3 linked regions of the Homo sapiens genome follow. The protein of the gene in region 1 purifies or fractionates together with the protein of each later gene. This does not show direct contact. Each region holds a gene or a part of one and is shown in the gene's direction. Other genes may lie near its edges.

What was found.
Region 2: the proteins of FOXJ1 (region 1) and CDK20 purify together in Homo sapiens (affinity purification with mass spectrometry; 4 studies listed by BioGRID and IntAct, with this or other methods). This does not show direct contact.
Region 3: the proteins of FOXJ1 (region 1) and FBXO11 purify together in Homo sapiens (affinity purification with mass spectrometry; 4 studies listed by BioGRID and IntAct, with this or other methods). This does not show direct contact.

What each region holds. Positions count from the first base shown.
Region 1 is NC_000017.11:76,138,242-76,145,761, reverse strand, and holds the start of FOXJ1 (forkhead box protein J1), read left to right. Parts: upstream 1-4,516; 5' UTR 4,517-4,648; exon of another isoform or gene 4,649-5,197; 5' UTR 5,198-5,366; coding exon 5,367-5,864; intron 5,865-7,520. Other genes in the region: E3 ubiquitin ligase RNF157, read left to right, coding at 409-527. UniProt on the Homo sapiens protein: Transcription factor specifically required for the formation of motile cilia. Acts by activating transcription of genes that mediate assembly of motile cilia, such as CFAP157.
Region 2 is NC_000009.12:87,971,524-87,979,408, reverse strand, and holds the start of CDK20 (cyclin-dependent kinase 20), read left to right. Parts: upstream 1-4,875; 5' UTR 4,876-4,962; coding exon 4,963-5,037; intron 5,038-5,169; exon of another isoform or gene 5,170-5,239; intron 5,240-5,334; coding exon of another isoform or gene 5,335-5,373; coding exon 5,374-5,487; intron 5,488-7,885. UniProt on the Homo sapiens protein: Required for high-level Shh responses in the developing neural tube.
Region 3 is NC_000002.12:47,896,489-47,903,509, reverse strand, and holds part of FBXO11 (F-box only protein 11), read left to right. Parts: intron 1-7,021. UniProt on the Homo sapiens protein: Substrate recognition component of a SCF (SKP1-CUL1-F-box protein) E3 ubiquitin-protein ligase complex which mediates the ubiquitination and subsequent proteasomal degradation of target proteins, such as DTL/CDT2, BCL6, SNAI1 and PRDM1/BLIMP1.

The sequences.
Region 1 (7,520 bases):
CTTCCCCCCACCTCTTCCTGCCCCAATGAAAATAGCTCAGCAAGGCCCAATTTCCTTTTCCTGTCTATTGTAACATATAGGCAAACTTTAAAACCAAGTAATTAAAATACAAAAGTGGATCCCAGGGTAAGTTCGCAAAACAAGGAACATCTTTCATGTCCCTCCCTGTCCGGGAGCCACAGTGGCAGTGACTGTACCTAGCCCAGGGGGCAGGAGCAGGCTCTGCACCTGTCAGCACCTGCTTCTCTCCGTTCTCACACACGAGTGCTGTGGCTCGCACCGTCATCGGAGTCTCAGGTGACACGCATCCTGCTCCTTCCGTGCCGGCTCCTGGGCTGCCCTGCTGGAGACACCATCTGGATTTGGCCAAAGGTCTGGCTCCTGTAATGTTCATTTTCTCTTCCCCAGGTGCCTGGCAGGCTGATGACAATGCCGTCAGTCGGAATGCCCAGCGCCGGCGCTTGTCATCCAGCAGCCTGGAGGACTCTGAGACGAGGCCCTGTGTGTGGGGCCCTTTGGCTGTCTGAGCCCCAGCCTCTGCACTTGGGCTCCCCTCCTGCCCTGCATTCCATCCATCCTCACTCAGCTGCTGCCTACTGGGCATCCTCAGCAAGATGCTGGAGACTTTTTACCCTCCTGTGACAGCTGTTACAACCTGTAACCACAATCCCTCACCTCTCAGAGGGAACTGGAACCCTCCTTTCTCCGTGTGACCTAAAGCCACTCAATGAACTGCAGCTCACGAGACCTTTTGCAGGGACTCTGGAATGTCCTCACGGTATATTGATGTTCAGGTGGAGCTGGGGTCCATGGGCTAATTTCTTACACATCTTTTTTCTCCTTAGGGGGTAGAACAAGAAGGCTTAGAGTTTGGCAGCTTTGTTACAAACATCCCTCTGGCATTTCCTGGTCTCTGGCACATCATAACCAATTGGAAACCTGCAGTTTGGGGTAGGGCTGGAGGATCGCTCCTGTGGAAAGGGAGAGCCATACTGCACGGACGTAGCGTTTCCCTCTACAAGCACTAGGAGCACCTTTCTCAAGGACAAGAAATGGTAGCAACCAAAAGGTTGGTTGAAGGAAACAATCCTTCCTTCTGGTGGCAGAGCCAGTCTTCTGGGCCTCACATGCCTGTGCGGTTAAGAAGGAGCTCTTGGCCGGGCGCGGTGGCTCACGCCTGTAATCCCAGCACTTTGGGAGGCCGAGGCGGGTGGATCATGAGATCAGGAGATCGAGACCATCCTGGCTAACACGGCGAAACCCCGTCTCTACTAAAAATACAAAAAATTAGCTGGGCATGGTTGCAGGCGCCTGTAGTCCCAGCTACTTGGGAGGCTGAGGCAGGAGAATGGCCTGAACCCGGGAGGCGGAGCTTGCAGTGAGCCGAGATCGCGCCAATGCACTCCAGCCTGGGCGACAGAGAAAAAAAAAAAAAAAGAAGGAGCCCTTGAATCTGAGAATCCCCCAGTTAAGATGATTTCCCTTAAGGAGCATTTCTCCTGATCAGGTGCATTCAGGGAGGCCTGCAACTCCATCCTAAGGTGACATTTCAAGAAACACATGTGTTGACCACCTCTGTGTGCCAAGCACTGGGTGAGGAGTGGTCGTATATTACCATAATTCATCCTCACTCAATTGGGAGGTGGCATTCTTGTCCCTGTTGCCCCCATCTCTACCCCCTTTTGTTAATGGTTGAGAGAAATGTGGACCAGTGATTCTCAGTTTGGTGCCCAGGTCCCCAAAGGAAGTGATGGAGAGCCTTGAGCTAAGTTCAGGCAGCAGCATGTGGCCAGCAGCAGTGTGCTGGGAGCAGAGGTTGGAATCAGGGCTCAGGGCCTTCACTTCAAGGGCCCTCCCCAGCTACTCGGGAGGCTGAGGCAGGAGAATCGCTTGAACTCAGGAGGTGGAGGTTGCGGTGAGCCAAGATCGTGCCACTGCACTCCAGCCTGGGCTACAAGATTGAAAAGATCGAAACTCTGTCTCAAACAAAAAAAAAAAAATTCAAGGCTGTTTCCAAGGCAGCCTCAAAAAGAGCCTGGTGCCCAGGGGGTCCTTCGTTTCTGTGTGGCTGCAGAGGCCAGGAGTGCAGTGACTGTCTCACTGCCTAGTGGTTGTGGCTCACATCCTGCCCTGATGGAGAGGGGGGCCTGTCGTCCAACCCTCTCTGAAAAACTGCAGTAGACTTTACCATTTCAGGCCCCACCTAATGTTCTTTCCTTCCTTCCCCCTACATTCTTCCCGCCCCTTTCATAGTTAAGATGCATAAGCTGAGCAATAACCCCACTTCCTGATTTCCCTGAAATATGAGCCCAGAAGCAGCAGGTGACAGGGAGCTTCCCTTACCCTGGGGTGGTGGCACACAGACCACCTCCTGTCCTGTCCCCTGCAGGTAGTATTCACAGTGTGGTGTTACCTGGGAGGAGGGAGGAAGGAGCTGAGATGAAGGAGATTCAGGTAAACAGTAGCCACAGTGGCCAGGACCCCCTTCCTGAGGATCCCTGTCCTTCCTCGCAGCAGGTGCTTAGTCCTCTCCTAGGGAGAAGCACGGAAAGATTCCTCAAGGCCTCAGTCCCATGTCCAAGGCATACCTAGGTTAGAAATGTCCTTTACTTGTTTCTCAGTTACTATTTCTCCTCTTCCTCCCTCCCCCTGCCTTCTCTTGGCTGTCATTTAGCTCTCTGGCCCACAGAAATACTCCATCCAAGGAGCTGGTCCTCAGTCAGCCTGATGAGGACAGGTCAGTGGCCAACCCTTTTGCCCCAGTCCTTCATCTGGAGACAGTCACATAGTCACGTCAACAGTTCACCCAAAGAGAAGAGGTGGGGCCTGGCTTCTCCCACAGGGCACAGCCTAACTATGGAGACCCAGGGCTCCTTCCTGCTGCACTAGGCCTGTGCTCTCCCTATTGCCTTCAGGTGGTGTGATCCCGGCTTCCTCACAGAGCCCTTTTTTCCTTCTGCCCAGCTCCATCCCACCAGAGTTTCTACCCCCGCTGAGGCATCTCCTGGGCACAGACCACCACACTCTAAGCCGGCTGGCCTGGGAGTTAGGGTCCTGCCCACCTCACCTGGGAGTTGGGGTCCTGCCCACCTGGAGTTTAGCACGCTGGTCGCTCACTTTGCTTTGGTCTGCACACCTGGTGTGTGCATGTGTATACTGCTTGTGCCATCTGTGTACCCCTCTCCCTGGAGTACACTTGTGGTCACACTACAGTGGGGACATCAAGAATGCAATATTTATGGATTGCTGCATGATTCTTAAAAATGAATAAAACTGTTTACAAGGGAAGGAGAGCTAACTGCAAAGTGAGCTTATCTGTGAAAGTTTCTGTCTGACTTTCGCCAGCACTCTTTAATACTTTTACTCAAGAGGATCTGGAGTTGGAGGAGTGGGAGAGGCAAGGGCTAGGGAAAGGCATGTTGGCGGGGGAGTGATGCGCCATAGCCGGGCCTTCTTCATGGTCTGGGCACCAGCCTCCCCGACCCCGGCTCTCCAGCTCCTGGGCAGAGGCGGGGTAATCAACCCAGCCCCCACCACTGCCTCTGCAGCCGCCTTAAACCGGAGAACGTCCAACCCTGCAGCTCCTCAATAATTAAAGAGCAGGAAAGCTGGTGACAGGAGGGAGGCCAGGGGAAGGGAGGAGGAAGGGACACAGTCCCCAGAGTCCCTCTACTCTTAATCCCTGTGACTTAAAGGTTGGTGAAATTAATTGGGCAAATGACCCCGCTAGGAGAATTTGACAAGTCCATGACTTCAGAGTTTTACCCACGGGCTCTGCTTCATCAGCTGTCTCCAGAGGAGTGAGTGCGCTTCTGCAGAAGCCTCTGGAATGTCAGCTTCCTGGAACCTCGAGGATACGGGTGGGGAAGGAGCTGCTTACTGGGACACACTGGATTACCCTACCCCCTTGGTGTGTCTGCCGCCTCTGTGGATGTAAGCGGCAGGTGGCATCGGAAAGTCAGACCTGCCTGGGACACCAGAGAAAGACCCTAAGAGTCGGGGGAGAGGGAAAGGCTGCAGAAACATGAGAAAGTGCCACTCGTAGCGGAGAGGAAAGAAAACCTCAAGGATACGGTTCCCGAGCCTGAGCCCGCTCCCAGCCTTAGCCCCCCAACCCCAGGCTCCGTCCCAGGAGCAGTCGACGCCTCAAAGCGTACGGGACAGGAAGGGGGTGGGGGCGAGAGTCTTGGTTCCCCAGAACGAACGGATCCATAGCGGTTCCCGGTGCCGCAGGCCGCGCGCTTCTCCGACCCCAGCGCGGGGCCCTCGGGCGGGAATGAGCCGAGCCGGGACTTAGCGGCGGGTAGGGGGTTGGGTGGCGCGGGAGAGGGCGGCAGAAGGAGGGAGTTCGAAGAGAGTTGCCGCCAGGGAGAGTGGCAAGTGCCCGCGGTCTCCTTGGAGACGTGCTGGCCAATGGCAGAGGCGGAAGCTGTTTATGGGGGCGGAGCGTCGCCATGGCAGCAGGAGAAGCCTTTGGAGCGGCTACTTAATGCCGGTCCCGGGGCCGCGGTAGCTCAGAGAAGCGCCGTCGGGCGGGGGGGCGGCAAGAGGCGCTGGCAGGGCCCCCGAGCTGGGGGCAGAGAGCCGCAGGGGGTGGGAGCAACTTCTTCCAGAACCTTCCTCTGGCCCGGGCTGCGCTCTGAGCCAGGTAAGGGATGGGGAGGGCTGCAGGCCAGGGGGAAGGGTGGGCAACGGTACCAACCCGCTCTCTCATTCGTCCTTAACGGAAGTGGTGGGCCCAGGGACTGACATCGGAGAAGTCTGGGGGAAACTCGCCTCCTGCCCCCCGTTACTGTTCCGTCCCCTTCCTTCCCAATGATCCCCTATCATAATATTCCTTTTCAAGGATCAGAGGACCTCCACCGCCCCCGCCCCGTCGTACCGCCCTCCCAAACTTCTCGCCCCACTTCCATTTGTTGCGAGGAGGAAGGGGGTCCTGATTTCCTGCTCTTCGGGAGAAAAGGATAGCCTCGGATGCCCCTACCCTCTTCATTTGGCTAATAAAACCTCGAAGAGGAAAGGAAGAGGGAGGCAGATCTGATGGGGGTGGGACCCCAGGGCCTTGCTTCTGTTTCCCATACCTCGGCACTAAAAGATCCTCCCCAGCTGCGGGGATGATGTTAGAGAGGGCGTCCCCGTACACACACTGTCCCCTCGGGGGTGGGGTAGTGCTCAGCTCCCACCGTGGTCCTCGCAGGCACCACATACTTATTCGGAGGAGGCGCCCCCGGGGTCGCGAGATGGAAGCGCGCGTCCGGGAGGCCGTGTAACGGGAGCTGCGGGACTCAGCGGGCCAGAGAGCGCGGCGGGCCACCCCCGGCTCAGCCCGTGGATGCTGACCGCCCCCTCGGAGAGTCCCCGCAGACATGGCGGAGAGCTGGCTGCGCCTCTCGGGAGCCGGGCCGGCGGAGGAGGCCGGGCCGGAGGGCGGCCTGGAGGAGCCCGACGCCCTGGATGACAGCCTGACCAGCCTGCAGTGGCTGCAGGAATTCTCCATTCTCAACGCCAAGGCCCCCGCCCTGCCCCCGGGGGGCACCGACCCCCACGGCTACCACCAGGTGCCAGGTTCAGCGGCGCCCGGGTCCCCCCTGGCGGCCGACCCCGCCTGCCTGGGGCAGCCACACACGCCGGGCAAGCCCACGTCGTCGTGCACGTCGCGGAGCGCGCCCCCGGGGCTGCAGGCCCCACCCCCCGACGACGTGGACTACGCCACCAATCCGCACGTGAAGCCTCCCTACTCGTATGCCACGCTCATCTGCATGGCCATGCAGGCCAGCAAGGCCACCAAGATCACCCTGTCGGCCATCTACAAGTGGATCACGGACAACTTCTGCTACTTCCGCCACGCAGATCCCACCTGGCAGGTAGAGGAGGCACGGGCGGCGGCCGCTCCCTCCCCATTCCCTCCTCGCTCCCCACGCTGCACTGGATTCATATCCCAAATCTGCAGGCCAAGTAGGCTCTGCGGTGCGGCCAGCGCCCCAGAAGGGAGCCCTGCAAAGGAGCCCAGTTCTTGCAACTGCCCCTCCTTTGACTTCCAGAGAGAGAGAGAGAGAGAAGGGAGAATGTCCAGAGGTGGAGGGCTTTAGGGGTGCAGAGGCTGAGATTCAAGGGGAAATAACCTGCCATTCATCCAGCAGGCCCAGGCCAAAGACCAGGGCTAGACTCTGCGTGGACAGAATCTCCTTGGGGAGAGCGATGAACTGAAGGCGCATTCTTGTCCCAAGTCCTAGAATTCCTAGACACTGCCCTGCCCCGGGATGGTTTGTCGGGGCCGGGAGTCAGAAACGGAAACTGGAACGTGGCCTCCCTGCCAGGCTCTACGTCCTGCCCTTTTGCAGTTGGCTTGGGGAGGGTGGAATGGAAGGGGTGCCTTAGCATGTGAGGGCCAGGTGTGTCCCAATGGAGGGTGGAGGGGGTAAGGGGCCTTCCTAAAGCTGCTGTCCCAGCCCCCCACCTCAACCTCTGCTCAGTTTCCTGCCTCCAACCCCCGCTGTCAGCCAACCTCCCTGGGGGGACAATTACCTGAGCCAGGTGCCTTCCACTGGGGCTCTGCCTACCACACTCACTTCGTGTTCCACGTCTCTGGAACCAGGCACTGAGCAGCCAAGGGGCCCAGGCCACCATGTAAACATCCCAGCCTTGCTGCCGGGCATTATCCACCCACCTGCCCTGCCGTCCCAGCCCAGGACCCCTGTCCCCCAGCAGGCTTTGGACAAGATTAAGCACCTAAGAATGGACAAGGCAGGAGGATGGTGGATTTGAGGCTGGGTAGGCAGTGCCCTAAGAGTCTTCAGCCATCACCATCAAGGGCTAGTTGGAGTCAGGGGCCCCCCAAGGACGCCCAGACTCTTCCCTGAAGCACCCAAAGCGGGCAGGCCACAGGACCGCAGTCCCAAGCCATTTCCAATGCCCCTGACCCTAGAGCAGGGTCATTTGCAGCTGCACCGAAAAAGCAGAGACCCTCAGCCCCACCCTACCCTAAGCCTGTGCAGCTGCGCTTCGAGAAACGGGCCCCAGGAATGAGTGCTATGCTCTTAGCTCTTGGCTGGGTAATAATCAACTGAGCCTGGAGTGGGGGGAGGGGGCCGTGGGGGGTGAAGGCCCAGGCCAGCAGCCGGCTCAACAAACAAGGAAAGTCATCAGATCCCCCACCTCTCATCCCTGCGCGCTCTCTCTCTCTCTCCCCCTTCCTCTCCACTCTCGGCTGCCCAGCCCCCTCCCTGGACCCACTCACTCACAGAGAGGGCCAGCCAGGCCCAGGCAAAGGGAGACGGTGGTCCAGGCCCTGGGGGAGCCGAGGGCTTTGGCCAGAGGCTGTCAGCGGCAGGGTGAGGGAGGGAGGGCAGGCGACGGGGGTGGCACCGAGAGCCACCCTGCGGCTCAGAGCTCGGATGACTGAGCAGGCAGATATCCCGGCAACAGGGAACAAAAGCCTCCGACAGCACTCCGGGCTCCCAGTGCCCTGTGGCTGGTGTCCCAGAGCTGCAGCCGCCTGGGCAGACCAGTGTGTCTGTCCC
Region 2 (7,885 bases), on another chromosome or scaffold:
ATTTGGGTCTTTAATCCATTTTGAGTTAGTTTTTCCATATGATATAAGGGGTCAATTTTTTCATTTTCTTGCATGTAGAGCTCTAGCTTTCTCACCATCATTAGTTAAAGAGACTGTCCTTTCCCCATTGAATGGTCTTCATAATTTTTTTAAAAATCATTTGATCAGGTATGTGAAGATTTACTTCTAGGCTCTCCATTCTATTCCATTGGGCTGTCTGCCTTTATGTCAGTACCACACTTTTTTGATTACTATAGCTTGTGGTAAGCTTTAAAATCTGGACGAGTAAGACCTCCTCCTTTTTTAAGATTGGTTTTGGCTATTTAGGGCCTCTTGAGAATCCACATTGGTTTCTGAATAATTTTTTTTTCTAATTCTGCAAAAAAGAAATCCCATGGAGATTCCATTAAACCTTTAAATTGTTTTCAGTAGTATTGACATATTCAAAATATTAAGTCCTTCAGTCCATGAACACAAGATGTCTATTTATTTGTGTCTTTCTTTCAGCAACATTTTTTAGTTTTCAACCTATGAGTCTTTTGCTTCCTTATTTACTCCTAAGTATTTTATTCTTTTTGATATTATTGTAAATGGAATTATTTTCTTAATTTCTGTTTCAGAGTGCTCATTGTTAGTATATAGAAACTATTGATTTTTGCATATTGATTTTGAATCTTGCTACTCTGTTTATCTTGTTTATTAGTTTTAACAGTTTTTTGTGGCATATTTAGGATTTTCTACATATATTATCATGTTGTCTCTAGACAGAGATAGTTTTTTCTTTCCAATTTGGATGCTATTTATTTATTTACCTACATTCATTTATTTATTTATTAGACGGAGTCTCACTCTGTCACCCAGGCTGGAGTGCAGTGGTGCGATCTCGGCTCACTGCAACCTCCGCCTCCCGGGTTCAAGCGATTCTCTTGCCTCAGCCTCCCAAGTAGCTGGGACTACAGGTGCGTGCCACCATGCCCGGCTAATTTTTGTATTTTCAGTAGAAATGGGGTTTCGCCATGTTGGCCAGGCTGGTCTTGAACTCCTGACCTCAGGTAATCCACCTGCCTCAGCCTCCCAAAGTGCTGGGATTACAGGCATGAGCCGCTGTGCCCGGCCTATTTATGTATTTATTTATTTATTTTTCTAATTGCTTTGGCTAGGACTTCCAGTATTATATAAAATAAAAGCGGCAAAAGTGAGGATCCTTGACTTGTTCTTGATCTTAGAGGGAAAGCTTTCAATCTTTCACCATTGAATGTAATGTTAACTGTGGGCTTTTCCTGCATGGCCTGTATTATGTTGAGGTGGTTTTCTTGTATTTATAGTTTGTTGAGTGCTTTCTTCATTAAAGAGTGTTGAATTTTGTCAAATGCTTTTTCTGCATCAATTGAGATTATCGTCTCCTTTTACCATTTCTTGAAGAGAATAGTGAAATAACTCCCATTACCATAATCATACTAGTCTTTGTGCTGTGATGTTATGCACAAAATGGTGCTTCATAAAGCATTTGATAATTGTACGACAGTCTTATGTGTGGGAAGATAAGTAAAATTTAGTCATGTAAAAGTCATTATGCAGTTATTGATTTGGCAAAAAAAAAAAAAAAAAGAAAAAAAAGAAAAAAGTCACTAGTCCAATAAAAAGGCATTTGCTTTGAAACTTTTCTTGAACCTCAAACTAGCTAGTAAAACTTGACAAAGTGGAGCCGTGTGTGGTGGCTCAGGCCTGTAAGTCCAGTACTCTGGGAGGCCAAAGTGGGAGGATCCCTCAAGCCCAGGATCAGCCTGGGCAACATAGAGAGACCCTGCCTCTACAGGCGTGGTGGTACGTGCCTGTGGAAAAAAGTGCCAGTTTTTCCAAGGGGTTGTATGAACTTGCACTCTTAGCAGCAGTGTATGAGAGTTCAAGTTGCTCTTTGCTAGCATTTGGTATTATCTATCTTTTTCATTTAAACTATTCTAGTGATTACAATAACACTCTGTTGTGGTTTTAATATGAAATTCCCTTCTAGTCAGGGAAGTTAAACACACATATTGCAAAATTTATTGGCTGTTCAGGAATCACCTTTTGCGAAGTGTCTATTCCAGGTTTTTCTAATTTTTTTTTTGTAAGATTGTCTGCTTCTTCTTCAGTGTTATAATAAAAGTTCTCTATAAATTCTACATGTGAGTCCTTTGTCAGATATATGTATTACAGTTCTCTTTTGCCTTTCTGTGGCTTTCTTGTTCACTCTCTAATGGTATCTTTTTTTTTTTTTTTTTAATTTGAGATGGAGTCTCACTCTGTCACCCAGGCTTGAGTGCAGTGGCGTGATCTTGGTTCACGGCAACCTCCACCTCCTGGATTCAAACAACTCTCCTGCCTCAGCCTCCTGAGTAGCTGGGATGACAGGTGCATGCCACCATGCCTGGCTAATTTTTGTATTTTTAGCAGAGACAGGGTTTCACCATGTTGGCCGGGCTGGTCACGAACTCCTGACCTCAACTGATTCTCCCATGTTGGCCTCCTAAAGCGTTGGGATTACAGGTGTGAGCCACTGTGCCTGGTCTCTAATGGTATCTTTTGATGAATAGATATTCTTAGCATTGATGAAGGCCAATTTCTCATTTTTGTTTTTCTTTTAGTGTATTCTGTAACCTAAGGATCTTGAATTAATCCAAAGCCATTAAGATATAATTTTCTTCTAAAAGCTTCATTATTTACCTTTTATATTTAGATTGCAGTCCATCTGGAATCAATTTTGTGAATGGTGTGAGACTGGGGTCAATATACATTATTTTCCCCTTATGACTTCTCAAATGACCCAGCACTATTTGTGAAGACCATCCTTTCCCTACTGTATCTTTTTTTTTTTGTTTGTTTTTTTTGAGACCAAGTTTTGCTCTGTCGCCCAGGGTGGAGTGCCTTGGCACAATCTCGGCTCACTGCAACCTCCGCCTCCTCCATTCAAACGATTCTCCCGCGTCGGCCTCCTGAGTAGCTGGGACTACAGGCCGAGTGCCACCATGCCCGGCTAATTTTTGTATTTTTCGTACAGGCAGGGAGTTTCGCCATGTTGGCCAGGCTGGTCTCAAACTCCTGATCTCAAGTGATCCGTAGGACTCGGCCTCCCAAAGTGCTGGGATTACAGGCCTGAGCCACCATGCCCAGCCTATCTTCGCCAGTTTTAATGCTAAAAACTATTCCATTCTATGGCACTCCCTTAACTTAACTTAGCCATTTTTCCATCTGGGTATTTGGGTTGTTTTCAGATCTCTGCTATCATCAAACAGGAGGAATACTTTGTATGGACATCAAGTCATTCTTCTGCAATTATTAACCCAGAAGTGAAATTTCTAAGCTAGAAAATATTTGCTTTTTTGGAAAATTAATAAATTATATTCAAAACTCAAATAATGTAAAGAGACCCAGTGAAAAGTCTGCCTCCTATTCTGTCCCCCTGTCCTCCCAGTCCCTCTTCCACCAGGTAACCACACTCAGGAAATCTTGTGTATCTTTCCAGATATCTTGTAATGGATGTACAAGCATTATTTATATTCTTTTCTCCTTTTGTTTACACAGCCAGTGGTACTCTATGCATTCTGTCCTGCATCTTGCCTTTTTCATTTAACAACCTATTTTAGAAATCTTCCCATTGCTGTACATAAAAAGATTTAATACCTCATTTGAAGGAGGCACCACAATGATGGACATCTGTGTTGTTTCCAATAGTTTGCCGTTGAAACAACGTTGCAATGGAATAACTTTGTACATGTCATTTCACATGTGTAAAAGGTGTCTATTGGGGAAATTGCTAGAAGTGGCTTTGCTGAGTCTGAGGGTCTGTGCATTTGTGATTTGATCAACATCGTCAAATTATACTGCCACCAGCAATGTATGAAAGTGCTTGTTTTCCCGTAGCTTGGTCAATGAACTATTAGACCTGAGATCTTTAGCCATCCAATATGTGAAAAACTGTAACTTTAGTTTGCATTTGTTTATTGTATGTGAAGTTGAGCATCCTTTCAGAAGTTTAAGGCCTACTCTGTCCTGTCTGGGTCAGAGTATGCCCTTTTATTTTATTTTTAGTTTTAGTTTTTGAGACAGAGTCTCGCTCTGTCACCCAGGCTGGAGTACGGTGGCGCAATCTCGGCTCACTGTAACCTCTGCCTCCCGGGTTCAAGCGATTCTTCTGCCTCAGCCTCCTGAGTAGCTGGGATTACAGGAGCACGCCACCACGCCCGGCTAATTTTTTTTGTATTTTCAATAGAGACGGGGTTTCACCATGTTGGTCAGGCTGGTCTCGAACTCCTGACCTGATGATCCGCCCGCCTCAGCCTCCCAAAGCGCTGGGATTACAGGCGTGAGCCACCGTGCCCGGCCCTCAGAGTATGCCCTTTTAAAAATCTGTGGGTACACGTAGCCAACTGACATTTTAAGACAAGAGGACCCACAGACCCTCTTTCCACAACGCAGCCCGGGACCTGTCTGTCTGCATCAATAGTGCCTGGCTTTCGGAGCTAGAAAACAGCACCTGCGCGTGGTCGAAGCCTGAACCTCTACTTACAGGTGCGGAGCTTCCGGCTTGCCAGGGGAAGGAGCCCGCCCCTCCCGGCTGCGTGCACCAGCGCAGCTAGTCACGTGACGCCGGGGGCGGGGGCAGATAGGAGGTGCCTGCTGTCATCGTTCCGTGGGCCCTGCTGCGGGCACGCTCTCGGCGCATGCGTTTTTTATGCGGGATTAAGCTTGCTGCTGCGTGACAGCGGAGGGCTAGGAAAAGGCGCAGTGGGGCCCGGAGCTGTCACCCCTGACTCGACGCAGCTTCCGTTCTCCTGGTGACGTCGCCTACAGGAACCGCCCCAGTGGTCAGCTGCCGCGCTGTTGCTAGGCAACAGCGTGCGAGCTCAGATCAGCGTGGGGTGGAGGAGAAGTGGAGTTTGGAAGTTCAGGGGCACAGGGGCACAGGCCCACGACTGCAGCGGGATGGACCAGTACTGCATCCTGGGCCGCATCGGGGAGGGCGCCCACGGCATCGTCTTCAAGGCCAAGCACGTGGAGGTGAGGCTGGACCGCGGCCGGCAGCCTGGCGGGGGTGTGCCCCCGCCACCCTCCGGCTAACGCTCTAAACTGTTTCGGTTCCCTTTTTACATCCAGTACAGTTTTTAAAACCTACTCATATTCTAAACCTACTTTGGGCCGTTGCGCTTCCCTCCGCACAGCTGGCTTGGTCCCCTACCCCAGCGGCTGGGTCCCAGGCTAGTCCTAGACCCCCGAGGAGGGCCTCTGGCCGAGCCGGGGGCGCGTGTCTCTCTCTCAACCACCTTCCCCTCACCCACCTTCATCTCTCTTTCCCAGCCGAGGGTGGGCTGGCAGTGTCTGCCTTCTATCCTGCAGACTGGCGAGATAGTTGCCCTCAAGAAGGTGGCCCTAAGGCGGTTGGAGGACGGCTTCCCTAACCAGGCCCTGCGGGAGATTAAGGCTCTGCAGGAGATGGAGGACAATCAGTATGTGAGTAGGGGAGGGGGGGCATGGTATTCTCACCCTCAGTCGCTCGTTCCCACTTCTTTGTGCCTTCATTTTCCCAGCTACGCCTTCACCAGCTTTCAGGGATTTCCTCCCGCTGTCACTCACACACACTGCTCATTCATCTGCCTCCTTACCCCCTTTTGCCCTTTTTTGTCCACTTGTTCACCTTTATTTACCTATTTCTTTCATTTCTCACACATTCACTCTCATTTGCCTACTTATTTCTTAATGTATTCATTCATTCACCGACTTTTTTTCTCAAAACATGTAGTGATTTATAATGTAACTAGCACCTATTGAGCTCCCGATGTGTTCTGCAGGCATTATATACATTGTCATTTTGAGACCTCTTTACTACTGTACAAGGCAGGTTTCCAGATCTCTGTTTCTCAGGTGAGAGGAGGAGGTTATGTCACCAGCTCTTGGGCCCTCCGTTAGTCAGTAGAGGGTTTGGCCCAGGTTTGATTGAGAGTCCATTCTTCCCTTGGGACCTCCCATAGGCTCTACCCTGTGTTGGGCACTGGTGACACAGAGAAACCAGCTCCAGCCCAGCTCCTGAGGACTTAAGTGTGCTAACAAGAGACAGAGGCAACAGGGCCCACCTAGTGTGGTTCGTGCTGTGATAGGGTACCGGGAGGGGCTGCTGGAACACGAAGAGGGGCATCTTTCACCCCTAGTGTCATTACTCTTTTGGTGCTCTCTCTCACCCATGTCGAAATAGGGAATGTATTTGACTCCCTGGAGAGTTAACAGGGTTGGGTCTCTGTGATCTGGAGATATGCATGATATATTGGATGACAAAAGCATGTTATAAAATTTTGTGTCATCTGGGTTTTGTTTGGAAATATTATATATGTGAATGTGTATTTGTGTGTGCCATATCTGTTGTAAAGTCTGGTAGAATACACTCTAAGATTGACTGTAGGATTTTTCTTTTGTTCTTTTTCTGTTGGATTTTATGTCTTACCTGAATGTGTGCATGTGTTTTGATCTGTTAAATGGTTGTGTACTACCTGAAAAATCCGAAAACAGCAATCAGGCCATTTTGATTTTTTGAGGAAGATAAAAGGGCTTCCAGACAGCCATGTGTGGGATAGGTGGAGAGATCCATAAGGAAGCTGGTGATATGGTCCCTACATCCAGTTGGTCAGCAATTCTGAAGGTTCTAACTTTAAAACATACTCTAGATTTGCTCCTTGCCCAAGTCATCATCACCACTCATCAGAATGACAGTGGCAGCCTCCCCACTGCTCTCCATAGCCACAGTCCGGAGGGCTTTGTCAAAAGTGTAAGTTAAGTCATCGGCTCCCCTGCGTAAAAAGCCCTGGTGGCTTCTCTTCACACTTAGAGCACTATCACCATGTGCCCACCTCCAGCTGGCCTCTCCCTTTTCTCTCATTCAACACAACTTCTTAGGCATCTCTCCAGTGACCAGCACCTATCTAGGGTCCAGGAGCACAGAACAAGGCAGACACATCCTTCCCTTAAACAATCTCATGTACTCACATCCCTCTAGCCTCCTTCTGTGCTGGCGTTAGGGCCTTGCACTTGCTTTTCTTCCTGCTCAGAGCTTTATCCCAGATCCCCACAAACTGGGTCCTCATCTAGCCCCACCCCACCTAAATAAAGAAGTATCCTTTTCTCCACTCACAGAATCACACTATCCTCTTCTAGTTCTGTTGATTTTTTTTCTTTTTTTGATACAGGGTCTCACTCTGTCACCCAGGCTGGAGTGTAGAAGTGCGATTTTGTCTCCCTGTAGTCTCAACCTCCTGGGCTCAGGTGATCCTCCCACCTCAGCTTCCCAAGTAGCTAGGACTACAGGCACGTGTCACCATGCCTGGCTAGTTTTTTGTATTTTTTGTAGAGACAAGGTTTCACCATGTTGCCCAGGCTGGTCTCAAACACCTGGGTTCAAGCCATCCGCCCACCTTGGCCTCTCAAAGTACTGGGATTACGGGCATGAGACGTCATGCCCAGCCCCCTTGTATTTTGGTTCCTGTACTTACAGAATCTGAATATATCCCTTTTATTCATTTATTTGTTAAACTGTTTGTCCTTTGTGCTGTGAGTTCATTAAGAGTCCTGTCTCTCAGCTCACTCTCTGTGTAGCCTGGCTCCTCTGACAGTACTGGCCTCAGTGTTTGTGATGTGTCTGTAGCTGTCCCAGCACTGGGAAAGGTGGGATTCCTGGTGTCCTTTCCTTGGTGCTGGGATTCGGTGGTTCTAGAGGAAACAGGAGGAGACCTGTCCATCTCATGTGTGACCATCCAGATGATTTTCAGGCGGGTAGGCTGGGTGGGCGGACCAGATGGTGCCACTAAATGACCTTTTTTAGACCTTTTAGTGTTCATGGAGAATTAGAGTGGGGGCACACCTT
Region 3 (7,021 bases), on another chromosome or scaffold:
TTCATTTCTATGTGAGGTAAGGTGACTTGGTTGTTGGCAGTCACATGCCAGTGTCAATTTTCTTCTCATTGATGTCTATAAACTGTCAATATTCATGAATCCAAATTTCAGTATGTACCCAACCAAATGGTAAATGAAATTTACTGTAGAATTGTTGCTTCTCTGCAGCTAGTACAAACTGTTTTGGAGATTCTGTGTTGGCACAGAGCAGAGAGGAAAAGAACTTTAGGGAAAATAGTGTGAGTCTTAAAGAGGGCACATAAATGGCCTTAAAATGAATAAAACATTAAGATGAATTCGTTAACTAAAATAATAAAGATGTTGCCAGCCATATGGAAAAATATGTTATTCTTTGAAAAATTGACATTTTAATTACGTTTTTTTAAATGTCCGATTCATATAATGATCAGAAGTTAACTAAGAATACTCTATTTCGAAAGTTTTATGGAGCACGCAAAGTGTCACTTTCTAGTTTGGAAAGAAAGGGATTTTGTTGTTGCTAGTTTAGGAATATGCTGGGTTTAATTATTACAGGATAATTAAAGAACTAAAGCTAAGAATGTATGTGTGGTTTTTGTTTTTTTTTTTTTAACCTTTTACTAACTCTTAATGGATATGTAACATTTGCATTAGGATCTTGGATAGAGTTACTTAATAGTGGATCAGACAACTTTCCAGATAGGGAATCAAAGTGAGACTCGCTGTTTTGAGACAAACTAGTTCAGACTGTATATAAAATCATTTGTTTTATATAAAGATGCATTTCAGGTTCTTTAGTGGTAATAAAATAGTTACAGTATAATATGTTTTCAGGCAAAAAGTCTGTCAGAATGGTCTTTAGCTGCTTCATTGCCCACAGGTTAATTGGTATAAAAACTTCCTTGACACCACTTTTAAATATATTTACATACACACGTGTGTATGTGTATGTGTGTGTGTATGTGGGTATATTTGTGTATATACATGTTTGTACATACATTATGTGTGTGTGTATATACGCTTTGTCTTATCTGTAATGGCCAGTGTTTGAAGAAGAAAGAAACTAGACCCTATAGATTAAAATCTTTGAGGATTTTTCAAAGCTTTCCATGGGGGAGCATTTCTTACACCCCACGTAAGGAAATATTGGTCTGGGTATTTCATGGACTATTGTGTTCACTCGTTAGCTGAAATGATCAGCTATCCTAAGACTAAATACTAGCCTAATCATTAGCTTTTTTAATTTCTTAAATTCCTGAGATTGGGATTTCATGTACTAGTAGAATTGTATTTTACAGGCCCAGAGCAATGGCTCACGCCTGTAATCCCAGCACTTTGGGAGGTCGAGGCAGGTGGACCACGAGGTCAGGAGTTCAAGACCAGCCTGGCCAACGTAGTGAAACCTCGTCTTAACTAGAAATACAAAAATGAGCCAGGCATGGCGGCTCACGCCTGTAATCCCAGCTACTCTGGAGGCTGAGGCAGGAGAATCGCTTGAACGCGGGAGGCTGAGGTTGTAGTGAGCTGAGATCACACCATTGCACTCCAGCCCAGGTGACACAGTGCAAGACTCGGTCTCAAAAATAAAAACTGTATTTTACGCAGTGACAATTCGGTAATATAGTCCATGATTTAATGAAACAGTAGTGTGGGATTGGATTTTTGATATTTGTTTTGTTTTAAAATTCTAGAAGGAGTTAGCTTTTGCAGCCCGTTCTGATGAATTTATTGTCTTTACTGCAGGAATGTATTTTGTAATTTTTTTAGATATTACAAAGTATGAGGAAAGCTTACAAGTCTACAGAAGTGCTGTGTGTTCTCATCAGTAGATTTTAGTTGTTAAAATTAATTACTTTGAACTGAGATTGCACCACTGCACTCCAGCCTGGGTGACAGAATGAGACTCCATCTCAAAAAATAAATAATAAATAAAATAAAATTAATTACTTTGAATAGGTAATATTGCCACAGTTTAAAATTCAGAAGTCCCCTTCGTACATCAGCCTCCAGCTACTAAATTCTTCTACCTGGAATCTAATAACTGTTATTAGTTTCTCATTTATTACCTTTTAATAAAAGATGAATTTGGGTTCTGGAAATAATCTTGACATGGGAGTTTTTGAAAATAGATGTATTTTTTTTCTAGTTATTGGAAAAGTCACAGGACTGTTTTGAAGTGCTGAAAATCTAATTGTGATATTTATAGTTCAAGAAATTTAATGAATGCATTAATAGATTTTGCTATTCATTTCTACTCTGAGCTAATCTTGTAGAATAAAAACCTAGTCTCTCTAATCCCATATTTGTGGGATAAAAATCTTATCTATGACACACATATATATGTACCCACATATATATACATATATATGTATATATGTACACACGTGTGTATATATATACATGTACACACGTGTGTACATATATACATATATATGTATATATATGTACACACGTGTGTATATATATACATATATATGTGTATATATGTACACACGTGTGTATATATATACATAAATATATATATCTCCCCACCGGCAATATTTTATGTAATATTATACGTACTGAATGATTTCAATTTTTAAAAACCCTGCAATTCCATAAATACGTGTATATATATACATATATATGTGTGTATATATACGTGTATATATATACACGTGTGTGTGTATACGTGTATATATATACACGTGTGTGTATACGTGTATATATATACACGTGTGTGTATACGTGTATATATATACACGTGTGTGTATACGTGTATATATATACACGTGTGTGTATACGTGTATATATATACACGTGTGTGTATACGTGTATATATATACACGTGTGTGTATACGTGTGTGTATACGTGTGTATATACGTACGTGTGTGTATACGTGTGTATATACGTACGTGTGTGTATACGTGTGTATATACGTGTGTATACGTGTGTATATACGTATATATGTGTGTATACGTGTGTATATATACGTGTATATACTTTTTTCTCGACACTGTACTGATGAGGAATGAGCTGTATATTTATAATATGCAGCAGCCAGGAGACACTCCTTGCTGTTCTAGTCAGGAATGCTAGTTATACTTTCTGTGGCATTGTTCTAGCATGTGATATTTTAACTTCATGGATCCTGTGCAGTCTTAATAGAGGAGTTCTGCACAAGAAACATGATTTTTCCTGTTTTAGGAAGTAAGTACTGTGGGGTACTACTCTGTCATCTGGTGGCTAACCCTTCCAAATGTATCCCATGAGAGGAGACAGTGCCACTCAACCTTTTGGAGGCAGGAAGTATGGGAGCTGTAAAAAGAGCCTATTTTCTTAAAGCTTGGAACTTACTTGAGGGATAGAAACAGAGTAGTGTTGCTATTAGTGTTAAAGTTGTGCTGATGAGGCCTAAGAGCTCTGCTGATAAGGCCTAAGAGCTCTTATCCTGCTTTTCTCCCTTTACTGGAAATTCTGACAAACCCAAGAGAAGGCCAACCAGCTTGGAGACCTACTAGGTAAGGCAGGAACCACAAGTAGTTCCTGATCTGTTAGTGAGAACCCCTAGTTTGAGTATTTTCTCAAGTCCCCCCGCCCCCCACCGTTTGTTTTAACTTTGAAAATAACCAGTTTACAGTAATGAGCTATTTCAACATGAGGTCTTTTATTGTCCCCCTATTTATCCCTGATATTAAAGTTACTCTTATTTTGTTTCTGTCTTGTCCCACTTATCTTTGAAGTATTACTCTGTTTTAGACCTTCCAATTCACTGATTTATCAGACCTTTGAAATATATTCTTATCTTCCACAGAATTATAGTATGTGACTTTGTTGGCAAAGTATTCCCCAAATTGTAGTTGCTACCCTGTGAAAATAAAATTATGAAGATACACTATAAGGAATGAGACAGTATGATGTAAAGAGCTCAGAGTTAAAGCTAGCTAGATATGGGTTCTAATCCTGACTACACATCTGATTAGTTATTTAACATTTGGTGAGCAATGTTACCTCTCTGAGCCTTACTTTGTGATCTTTCAAGTGGGAATCACACCTGCCTTATAGAACATTTGTAAGGATGAGAGATAGTAAAGTTCCTAGCACATGATAGATATTTAATAAATGATAGGTCTTTTAAATATAAAAAGTAAGGGATTGTATCAGCTGTATATAAAATTAAACCCAAGAGATAAAATTCAATCTGTATGACTTGTTACAACCTCAGAGAAACTGATTTGTTGAAGCTTATACCAATTCTTTTTTTTTTTTTTTTTTTTGAGACGGAGTCTTGCTCTGTCGCCCAGGCTGGAGTACAGTGGCGCGATTTCGGCTCACCGCAAGCTCCGCCTCCCGGGTTCACACCATTCTCCTGCCTCAGCCTCCTGAGTAGCTGGGACTACAGGTGCCCACCACCACGCCCGGCTAATTTTTTGTATTTTTAGTAGAGACCGGGTTTCACCATGTTAGCCAGGATGGTCTCGATCTCCTGACCTCGTGATCCGCCCGCCTCGGCCTCCCAAAGTGCTGGGATTACAGGCATGAGCCACCGTGCCTGGCCCCCTTATACCAATTCTGTAAGAGATTTTATTACTTTTTTTTTTTAATAAATGAAGAAGTAGAGGCTCAGCTATACAACAATGAAGATGCATAGTAAGTAGCAAAAAAATTTCAAAATTGATTTATATCACCTAATCTTTCTATAAACAAGGAAAGATACCAAAATACATTTGGCAGAATGTTTGTATAACTTTCAGGGGATGCAATAACCTGCCCCTTGAAGCAGATCTGTCCCCTGTTCTATACCATCTGTCCTATTGGAGATGGCTGCACTAGTCTGATGCTATTGATTGTTGACTTATCTGGTTTCACATTTTTCAAGTAATCTTCTGATTATAATTTTACCTCTCATGTAGATTTGTCTCAAGATGAGACTCTACTGATTGACCAGCATGTTTTTCCAGTGTGTTGATGAGATCATTAAGCACTCATTATACAAAGAAGGGTAGATTTCCCCTGAATTACTCATAAGTTATGAATAAAGGGTATTAACTGATTTTAGCTCATGGTTGTAGGCTGGACTATTTCAGAAGGAGAAAAATGTGCGTTAAATTAGTTTTAGATTTCAGTGGTAATTTTGACTGGTTTGTGGACTAAATATTCTTTTCTCACCATGGTTTGGTGTGTTTCTTATATGTGTAGCTTGGAGTTTTTATATATGTTTGGTTAGCATAAAAAATGTGCTTAAACTTAATCCTTAGAAAATAGAGAAATGAAACCAACTAACTTCCTTTACATGATTTATTTCAGTTGAAGGCAAATATCAAAAATGTTTATTTTCCTTTGAAAATGAATGCATTAATTGCATTTAAAACGTTTTTTAAACACCCCGAATAAGATAGCATGTTAAAGCAAGTGTGAGTTCAGTATGTTAATTGCTTGCTCTCCCAGTTTCTAAAAACCCCGTTGTTAAATGTTTTGTTCTTTTTAACAAATGAAGATCATGGGGCTATGTTCAAAAAGGGGAGAAAATTGTTTTCTTCCATGTGGTGACTAAACCTTAAAAAACATTAAGGAATATTTTCACATCTCATGAGAGAAGAGGTGTCATTCATCCTTTTTTTTGTGTGAAGAGAGCTTTTGTATTTTCTCATACTTAGAGATTATTTGAAGGCTAGAAATGGAGTAAGAATATGTACTTTTAGTTATTTTTCTGATAATAGTGATAATCTCATTTTTACTCTTTTTTCCTAGTGAACAACACTCCTTTTCCAGATGGTTGAGTTGAATTGTGGCAAAATCTTTGTTGGAAATTTTTCTTTTTTCTTTTCCTTTTTTTTTTTTTTTTTTTTGGTTTAAGACACAGTCTCACTCTGTCACCCAGGCTGGAGTGCAATGGTGTGATCTTGGCTCACTGCAACCTCTGCCTCCTGAGTTCAAGTGATTCTCCTGCCTCAGCCTCCTGAGTAGCTGGGATTATAGGTGCACACCACCATGCCTGGCTGATTTTTGTATTTTCAGTAGAGACGGGGTTTCCCCACGTTGGCCAAGCTGATCTCAAACTCATGATGTAAAGTGATCTGCCCGCCTAAGCCTCCCAAAATGCTGGGATTACAGGCGTGAGCCACCTCACCCGACCAGAAGTTTTTCTTTAGTGTGAAATTAACTGGCCACTGTGTGGGTTTAACCTTTGATATTGGTGTCTGTGTTACTGTAGTGTAACCAACTGACTTGAATCAGTTTAGCCTTTGCTGATTTGCCAACTCTACTTGGGTTTAGATACAATAATTCTTTTTTATATCCAAGCATTGATTTTTCTATCTTCCATTCATAGTATATTAACATACTGTATATAAGAACATGTGGCTTTATGAGATTCTAACACTTAGTAGGAAAGGGGATGGGGAAGAGGAAGAGCATGTAACTATTTTTTATTCCCTTGTTATATATTGAGATGGACAACTTTGGTATGTATGTTACTAGTTATTGTTTCTTCCCACATAATTGGTCATAACTTTTTGAAAAAAGAAAAAAACAAGCTTTAAAGGGAATTAGAAGTGAATAAAATTTAACAAATGAAAAGTAGGAGTCTTTCCAGACTTCTATCATAGTAAAGAAGAAATATCAAAGAAGATTTGTTGAGAGAAATAGAAGTTGGAGTAAGGCACTATATTTTGAAAGCTAGTATTTTTAGCAAAGTGTTCTTATGGTAAAGGAAATTATAGACTCACTCACTTTATTTCATATAAGGTCAGCAATACATAAAAGTAGCCACTATACTACTTCACACTTACATATGAATGACTGATGTCTTCATTAATTCTCTGAAAGACATTTGCATTTTTAAGAGACTGATTATGATAACTTGTCAAATTTTGGTATTTTAGGCCAAGTAAAAGAGGGAAGCGAAATTAAACAATTGGGCGGGGCATAGTGGCTCATGCCTGTAATCCTAGCACTTTTTGGGAGGCTGGGTGGGGTGGATCGCTTGAGCCCAGGAGTTTGAGACCTGCCTGGGCAACATGGCGAAACCCCGTCTCTACAGAAAATACAAAGTTAGCTGTG